Linked DNA regions of Homo sapiens. The protein of the gene in region 2 interacts with the protein of the main gene of each other region in a pairwise test. Each region holds a gene or a part of one and is shown on either strand. Other genes may lie near its edges.

Region 1 (3,748 bases), on a different chromosome or scaffold from region 2:
CACATTCTGGGGAAGTCAAGGGGACCATGGAAGGCTCCACAGAGGATGTTGGGGCTGGGCATTACATAAAGCCTTGAATCCAGATACTATAGATTTACTTCATTCTTACAGCCAAGAAGATTGGCTGTGCCCTACTCTCAGGCCATAACTCAGTATATAACAAAGCTATCTCACTGCCTCTTGTCTTATTTTTATATTTACTTGTTTTATTATCTATTCTTCCTCCTACAGCCCCTCCCCAATTTATTTATTATGGCTCACTGCAGCTTTGTCCTCCCAGGCTCCAGTGATCCTCCCACCTCAGCCTCCTGAGTACCTGGGACTACAAGCACGTGCCACCATGCCTGCCTAATTTTTAACTTGTTTGTAGAGATGAGAATCTCATTATGTTGCCCAAGCTGGTCTTGAACTCCTGGTCTCAAAGGATCCTCCTGCCTCAGACTCCCAAAGTGTTAGAATTACAGACGTGAGCCACGACACCCAGCTTCCCTCTCCAATTTAAAAGCTCCTTGAGAATAGAGGTGTGTCGTTATTCATCAATGAATCCTCAGCAACAGAAACAGTGCCTGACACTTAAGAGAGGCACTATAAATACAGATGGACTGACTGACCAACTGGGGTTAATGTGTAGGTAATAATAGGAGAATCTGTTCCAGCTCCAAGAGTTGGGGGATAGTGCCTCCACTTTACTGACCTCGGGATAAGTCTGTCCCTGCTGCTGGATATTCCCTCATTTGTTCGCAGACATTTATTGCGGGCCTTCTTTATACCTGCCCTATGCGGTGTATTACTGATACAACATGAACAATATGGAAAAAATGCTTTTCCTAAAGGACTTAAAACCCTGTGGGAGCGACAACAAGGAAACAGACAATTATAAGACAATATGATAAATGCTATAGGTCCACAGCAGAATCACCTAACCTATGACGTGGGTGGGATTAAGGAAGGCATTCCCTGATATGGGGATTACCAGGCACTCTCAGCTCAGGTGGAAACCGTTATGGTAAGGTCCGCTCTCAGAGGTGGTAGGGCCCAGAAATGACATCATCCTAAGTGTAAGTATGCAGACAGCACACAGAGGGGCTTGGTAACTGAAGCTGGGCCCAGAGGATGGGGTCCTGACCGATTGGGAAGCTGTCAAAGCCATCATTCCCAGCTCATAACCTGGGACCCATGACTACCCAGAAAGGCATAACCAGGATGAAGAAACACAGGTCTCTCCAGCTTACTGGAGAGACTGACTGGGGAAGCTCCTCACAGCTGAGGCCAGAAACCTTTTAAACAGAAGTTTCCTCTGAGTGGACCTGAACAAGCCAGTTCCCTCTTCCTTAGGACGGCCCTTCACAAATCTAAGCATTTTCCTCTTAGCTTAATCCCTCCTTGTCTCAGGTCTCCCCCAGGCCCACATCCGAAAGTAGATGACAATAATTACTTGTTGAATGAACGAATCATGAGGAGTCATGTAAATAGAATTCTGTCACGTTGTGAGCCCACATTCACCTTACGGGTATATTGGAGGGCGGGAAAACGGAGATGGGGGGCTCCACTAATGTGTGTCTGTGATCCTGGTTAGATCGCTGTAGGCCATAGAAAGTTTCATTTTAAAAAAATTCCTTTCACAGATCAGAAGTGATGTCCCCGTCCCCGTCTTCTCTTCTGAGTTTGTGCAACGTCAAAACTACAAGTCCCATAAGGCCGGCGGCCGGGAGTCACCATCTTGACATACCTTAGCGCGCATGTCGGCGGGAGAGCGAGCGTTTGGGGAGAAGAAGCCCCGCCTGACTGCAGCCCATTGGTCAAAGGGGTCGGCAGCGGGCTCAGCGGTTGGCCACAGCGCCCGCCCGTCCGCCGCGTCGGTCGGGGTCAGAGTGCGCGGAGGTGAGTCGGTGTGTTGTGGACTCGTGGTGCTGGCTGCCGCTGTTCAGGCGGCCGGGAACGGGCGGTGGGGAGCGGGCGGAGCTGGCCCTGCCTCTGCCTGGCCGGCGCCGCAGTCGGCGCGGGCCGCGCCCGCCGCCGCCAACTGCCCTGAGCGCTTGCTGAGGCCGAGGGAGACGTCGGGGCCTGCACCTGGAGGGAGCCTGCCGCGCTGGCCCCGAGGAGGGGGCGTTGCCATGGCGACAGCCTCTCCCGCTGCTGACGGGGGGCGGGGGCGGCCCTGGGAAGGAGGGCTGGTCTCCTGGCCCCCCGCCCCTCCCCTTACTCTCCCCTGGACTTGGATGGGCCCGAGTTGGGGGCAACACCCCGGGGTGGGTGATGCTGAATGGCCCCGCCAAGATTGGGCCCTGGTTAATGCATGCGGGGTGAGGGTCGCGGTGCGCAGAATTTATGCAACCTGGGGTGCTGGCCCATGTGCTTACCCTGGATGCTTACTTAATCTACTGAGTAATGTTCTGGCGGAGGGGGAGCGGGGCAGAGCTTTGCAAGACAGGATGGGTGAGTTTATTAAGGGGGTTGACTTACTGGGATTACTAGAGAAGAAAAAGGTTTGACTAGAGAGGCTAGAAATGGAGCATGGAGATTGTGGGTAGAACATTCCCTTGACCCTCTCGCCAACACATGCCCACACACCAGGTTAGCAGTTTACCTCTTTGTAAATCTGAAGCGGTGGTAGTAGTGATGGTGGAAGGAGTGAATAAGGGCCTAACCTGGCTAGCTTTCTGTTTGCCTGTCTTGCAAATGGTCCAGCAACAGGTGTTTTCTTAAAAAAAGCATGAACTTGGATTGAGGCTTGACTGCGAGTTCTTGCAAAATATAACTGCTCCTTGTTGACTTGGAAGATGCTGGATGTGGGGCCCCTCAATGGGGGTTTGGATTTTGTCCTTAGAGCTGGATTTTGCAACAAATAGTGCCCATCGTTGTGTCTGCGAGAGGTCTCTGGCCACTTCAATGGCATTTACTCTTGTCAGACATTTAATCAGTCTCCCAGCGGAAGGGCAGCAAAACATGAATCCTATTGGCTAAAAGAGTGTACGCTATTCAAACTATAGTAGGTTGTGAGTGGCTAAATGAGTTTTGATTGTAGAGTTTCTTCCAGAAATTGGCTTCATCAAATTCTGCTTTATTCTGACTTTATCATATACAGCATGCCTTGTTTTAGTGGGTTCTTGCTTGGAGCTTAGTTTATTATACCTGAATCTCCTACCATTTAAAAGCCAATTTATAAACAGGGACTTGGAGTGTGACTCCACTAATGTGTGTCTGTGATCCTGGTTAGAAACCCACTTGGCTGCCTTTTCCTCAGGAGGTGGGGGTTGGGGGAAGGGAGCTGCCGGGAAGTGATTGATAAGGTTTCCTTTATAGATTCTGTGGTGCTTCACTGGAGCTCAGAGCACTTTGGCAACTTAAGCACTCCAAATTAAAAGCTCATTAACAATTCCTGCCCAAAGATCCTGTAAATAATCAGCTAGCTAGGTCATAGAGCTTGGCTAAGAGCTTTTCTTCCAACTTGAAATTTCCAAATAAAAGTGCTTTTATTCCCTTTCATTTTAAAAAGTGTTTTCTTTGTGGTGGGGTAAATTGGTGAGTGGCCTTTTCCCAGGGGATCTGAGTAGAAGAAAGTCTTAAATGTGTGGAATGGTAGACAGGAATATATTAGTTCCAACCCTAGGTGTTTCTTTATGCAAAAGACATCACTAACAGGGGCATCTCTGCAACTTCTGGTCCTTTGGAGGATATGAATTAGTTGAAAAGGATGATAGGTATCTATTGATGTTTTGACTTGGGATTTAGTTACCTTGACTTTCTT
Region 2 (3,748 bases):
GCGGAGGGGGCACAGCGGTAGCCGAGAAGGGGCCGCCGAAGCCGCCGCCGCCGCCGCCGCTCGTCGGAACGCTGAGCCCAGTGCAGCCGTGCGGCGACACGGGCGAGAAGCTAGGGAAGAAGGCCGGGTTCATGGACGACGGCAGCCCGGGGTAGAAGCCGTTCTCTGAGTCGGGGCTGGGCGGCGGCATGGCGCTGAGCGAGCCGCCGCTGCCGCCGCCCGGGGTGGTGGCAGACGAGCCGGGCGGCTGCGGCTGCGGCTGGGGCGGCTGCTGGGGTGGCGGCGGCTGCTGCTGCGGCTGGGTCGGCGGCGGCTGCTGGGGCTGGGGTGGCGGCGACGCGGTCTGCACCGACCAGGGGGTGCCGAAGCCGGGCAGCGGCGGCGGCGACGCGGAGCCGCCTCCCCCTCCGCCTCCTGGGGGCCCCCCGCCCCCGCCGCCGCCGCCGCCGCCCGGGTGTGGAAGGTCCGGGCTCTGCAGGCTGCTGAAGGCGCCCGCGCCAAGCGCACCTCCGGGCAGGAGGTTACTGGGACTGTTGAGCAGAGGGTGGTTGGGGGACTCCATGGAGCCCGGCGCGGGGTTCACCGGCGTCGAGGAGGCCAAGCCCGCATTGGGGGACTCGGCGGCGCTGCCCTCGCCCGCGGCTGGGGTCTTGCGAGGGCTGCCCGCGCCTCCGTGGCGGCGCCGCGGGGCTGCAGGCGGCGAGGGAGGGAGCTGCGGGAGCGGGGGCAGGTCTGCCGGACGCTGCCGCGGGGCGAAGTCCTGCGGCGAGAGGTGCTGCTGATGCAGGAGGCTGAACTGCTGCGGCGGCTGTTGCTGCTGGCGCTGAGCGAGCTGCGCCGGCTGGAGGAGCGGGCCGGCTGGCGGCGGCGGCGGGCTGAACCGACCGGGGCAGTGGAGCGGCGGAGGCGGCGGCGGCGGCTTCGAGTCCGGAGGGTGGGGAAGGTGGGGAGGGCTGAACTCTTTCCTCTTCTGGCTGCTCAGCTGCTGCTGCTGCCGCTTACTGAAGTCCTGCGGGGAGGAGGTGCGGCAGCAGCAGCAGGAGGAGGCGGAGGAGGAGGAGGGGTGGTGCAGACTCGGTTTGAAGTCCTGGGAGGGGAGGAGGTGGGTCACACCCGCGATCGTGCCGCCGCCGGGGTGGTGGTCGGGGAGTTTCTCCGTGGCCGCCGCCCCCGAAAGCGGCCGCGCCGGCTGCTGTGTCAGCCCCAGAAGCAGCTCATCCTGCATGGTCTGCTGATGCGCCAGGAACGGGGAGGAAGAGGAAGCGGCGGCGGCCGGGCTGCCCGCGCCGCCGCCGAGGGGGACGGAGAAGGGGGAGGCGGCCTCTAAGAAGCCGGTGACAGGCAACGGTGGTGGCGACAGTGGGCCGAAGGGCGTGGCGGAGGGCAGCGGGTTGACGGACCCCACGGCGTAAGGACCATACGCCTCGCCGCAGAACAGGGGCCCAGGACTGCTACTTCGGAGCGGGGCGGTCTGCAGCACCCCAAACCCGAAATCCCTCATTTATCAGGCCGCCGGCAGCGGGAGGAGACGCTCCTCGTCCCCTGCCCCACCTAGGAAGCCGCCGGCGCTGGGGTTGCGCGGCCGTGGTGGAAGGAGGGGGAGTCAGTGAGAGAGGGACACCGTGACTGAGCCAGGGGGCACCGACTTCGGCCCCACCACCCCTCGCGGCGATCGCCGCCGCCGCCGCCGTCGCAGTCGCCGTAGCCGCCCTGGCCGCTTAAGAACCCCGGAACGTGCGTCAGCGCCACCTCACAATCGCGCCGCCCCCCGCGGTGCGTCCCGGCACGCGCGGGCGCGAGGCCACCGCGTCCCCGTCGCCCCTCCCCGCCCCTCATTACTATGCAGACGCAGCCGAGGGCGCGCTCGCGCTCCCGGGAGGGCGGGAGCGAGCGGCGTGTCCCGTTGGGTCTCTCCGCTCCCGGGGAAATGGACAGGCCGGTTGGGGTGGGGGTCGGCTGGCAAACAGTGGTCGGGAGCATTGGGCGGGCGCGCGCACGAGGGCAAGCACGCGCGGGAGGGAGGGACGGTTCCTGGGCAACGGCCCCTCCTTGGCGCGGGATCCGCGCAGAGTCTGCCTGGGTCGCACGCGTCTCCGCCCCTCGCGGTGCCTCCTCCTTCCTGTCACCTCGGTTCCGCCCTGGGTGGGGAGAAGCCCTGCTGCACCACTCGGGCTTCCCAGAGCGGGGCTGGCCCGCGGGGGAAACTGAGGCCCGGGACCCCGACCGGCGCCTGCACTGTGCGACCCGCGTAGAAATAGGCGCCCGAGGGGCCCCCAGCGCAACGCGGGAGCCCGGCCCAGCCCGGGGGTCCTGTGGTGAACTAGCGTCTGGGCTCTGCCGGCTTGAAGTCCGCTGAGCGCCTCGCCGCGCACCTCTAGACCCCGAGTCCCCGATCTAGGGCCTCCTTGTAGCCCTAGGTAGCGCCCTCTAAGCTTGTTTCTGTTTTTAGGCGCTGGTAGGAGTGCTGTCACCGACGTCGTAGAGCCGCCGAGGGTGTTTCTGTAGGGTAAACATGAAGCCTCGGCTATATTCCAGGCATTTTCACTTGGGTAAGAAGGAACAAAGTCCCTGGAACAAACACGCTCCGCGTGGTTATTTACACACTCGGATGCGTGGAACGGGTTCCACGGCGAGCTCCCATAGTAACCCCGGGCCAGCTCCGCTTCATAAAAGCCTTTCGTGTGCCATCAGGGCTGCAGCGTGGGACTCCTCCCCACCACATTCATTCCGGCGTCCCCGCCCCTTCCCCCCAGGGAGACTCTAATTTATTCCTAAGCTTTATGAATTTTCAAGGGAGAAATAGTTCTTACATCAGGGAAAAAAGGAGGTTCTGACTCAGCAGCAGACTTGTTGAGACTTGCAAAATGGAAGGGAGAGAGCTTTCCATGGTAGAGCTCTTTAGAAGCATTAGAGGAGGAACTAATCCTGTGTTTCCTTTTGTATAGAAACATTTTACATAAAGTATTTGAAGGTCTAGATAAAGAATAACAGAGTGATCCATACTACATGATGAGGTGAACTTTATGTTTCTGTTTTGTAATTTTAACTGTTTTGCTTGATGCTTAGAGAAATGAAACTATTAAATGAATCCTAGAATATAGACTCAAACCCCCAAAGCAATAGAAGGTGGATTCAGACTTTACTTGATTTTGGTTTACAAGTGAACTAAGATTAAATATTTAATTTTATAAATTAGCATACTCTTACTGATGTAGGCAGAGTGTACATTTTTATAAGTCCTCATTCTCTATTTGAATTCTACTTCTGTTCAGTGTCTCAAATTTATATAAATCGAAATAAACATGGTAGAAAGAGAGCAACATTGCCCCAGGGAACTATACTTCATGTATAATGTTTATCTCTGCTATCCTGTCCAATGAACCAAGTTTTATGTTGCCTTTACAATAAGGAAAAAGTACTTTTTAAAAAACTCAAATGGTTCAGAATTTGGTCAGGTGAATAGAAAATTGGTTCAACTTATTAATCTCAAAATCATTTTTAACAGTCAGGCAAAATGTAGAACTGGAGAAGTATTTTTATTCTAAATTACAATGTCTAGAAAATAACCTGAGCTCAGAATTTAAAATATAAATGGTTATTTTCAGAGTATATATTGACATATTAAATATTCATTTTTTAAAAGGTATTGTGCAGGAAAAAAAACTACTTCTGCAACTAAGGAATGTAAAGTCTTAACAACGGATGATTTTTTTCCAAGTACAGTTGTATTTGATTGGAATCATTTGCA

Evidence for each region. The genes of interacting proteins can lie anywhere in the genome.
Region 1: the proteins of CPEB2 (region 2) and ERI3 interact in a two-hybrid assay, tested with the Homo sapiens proteins (one study listed by BioGRID).

The regions. Positions count from the first base shown.
Region 1 is NC_000001.11:44,353,393-44,357,140, reverse strand, and holds the start of ERI3 (ERI1 exoribonuclease 3), read left to right. Parts: upstream 1-1,883; 5' UTR 1,884-2,114; coding exon 2,115-2,249; coding exon of another isoform or gene 2,250-2,303; exon of another isoform or gene 2,304-2,388; coding exon of another isoform or gene 2,389-2,436; intron 2,437-3,748.
Region 2 is NC_000004.12:15,000,427-15,004,174, reverse strand, and holds the start of CPEB2 (cytoplasmic polyadenylation element-binding protein 2), read right to left. Parts: upstream 1,695-3,748; 5' UTR 1,502-1,694; coding exon 1-1,501. UniProt on the Homo sapiens protein: May play a role in translational regulation of stored mRNAs in transcriptionally inactive haploid spermatids. Binds to poly(U) RNA oligomers. Required for cell cycle progression, specifically for the transition from metaphase to anaphase.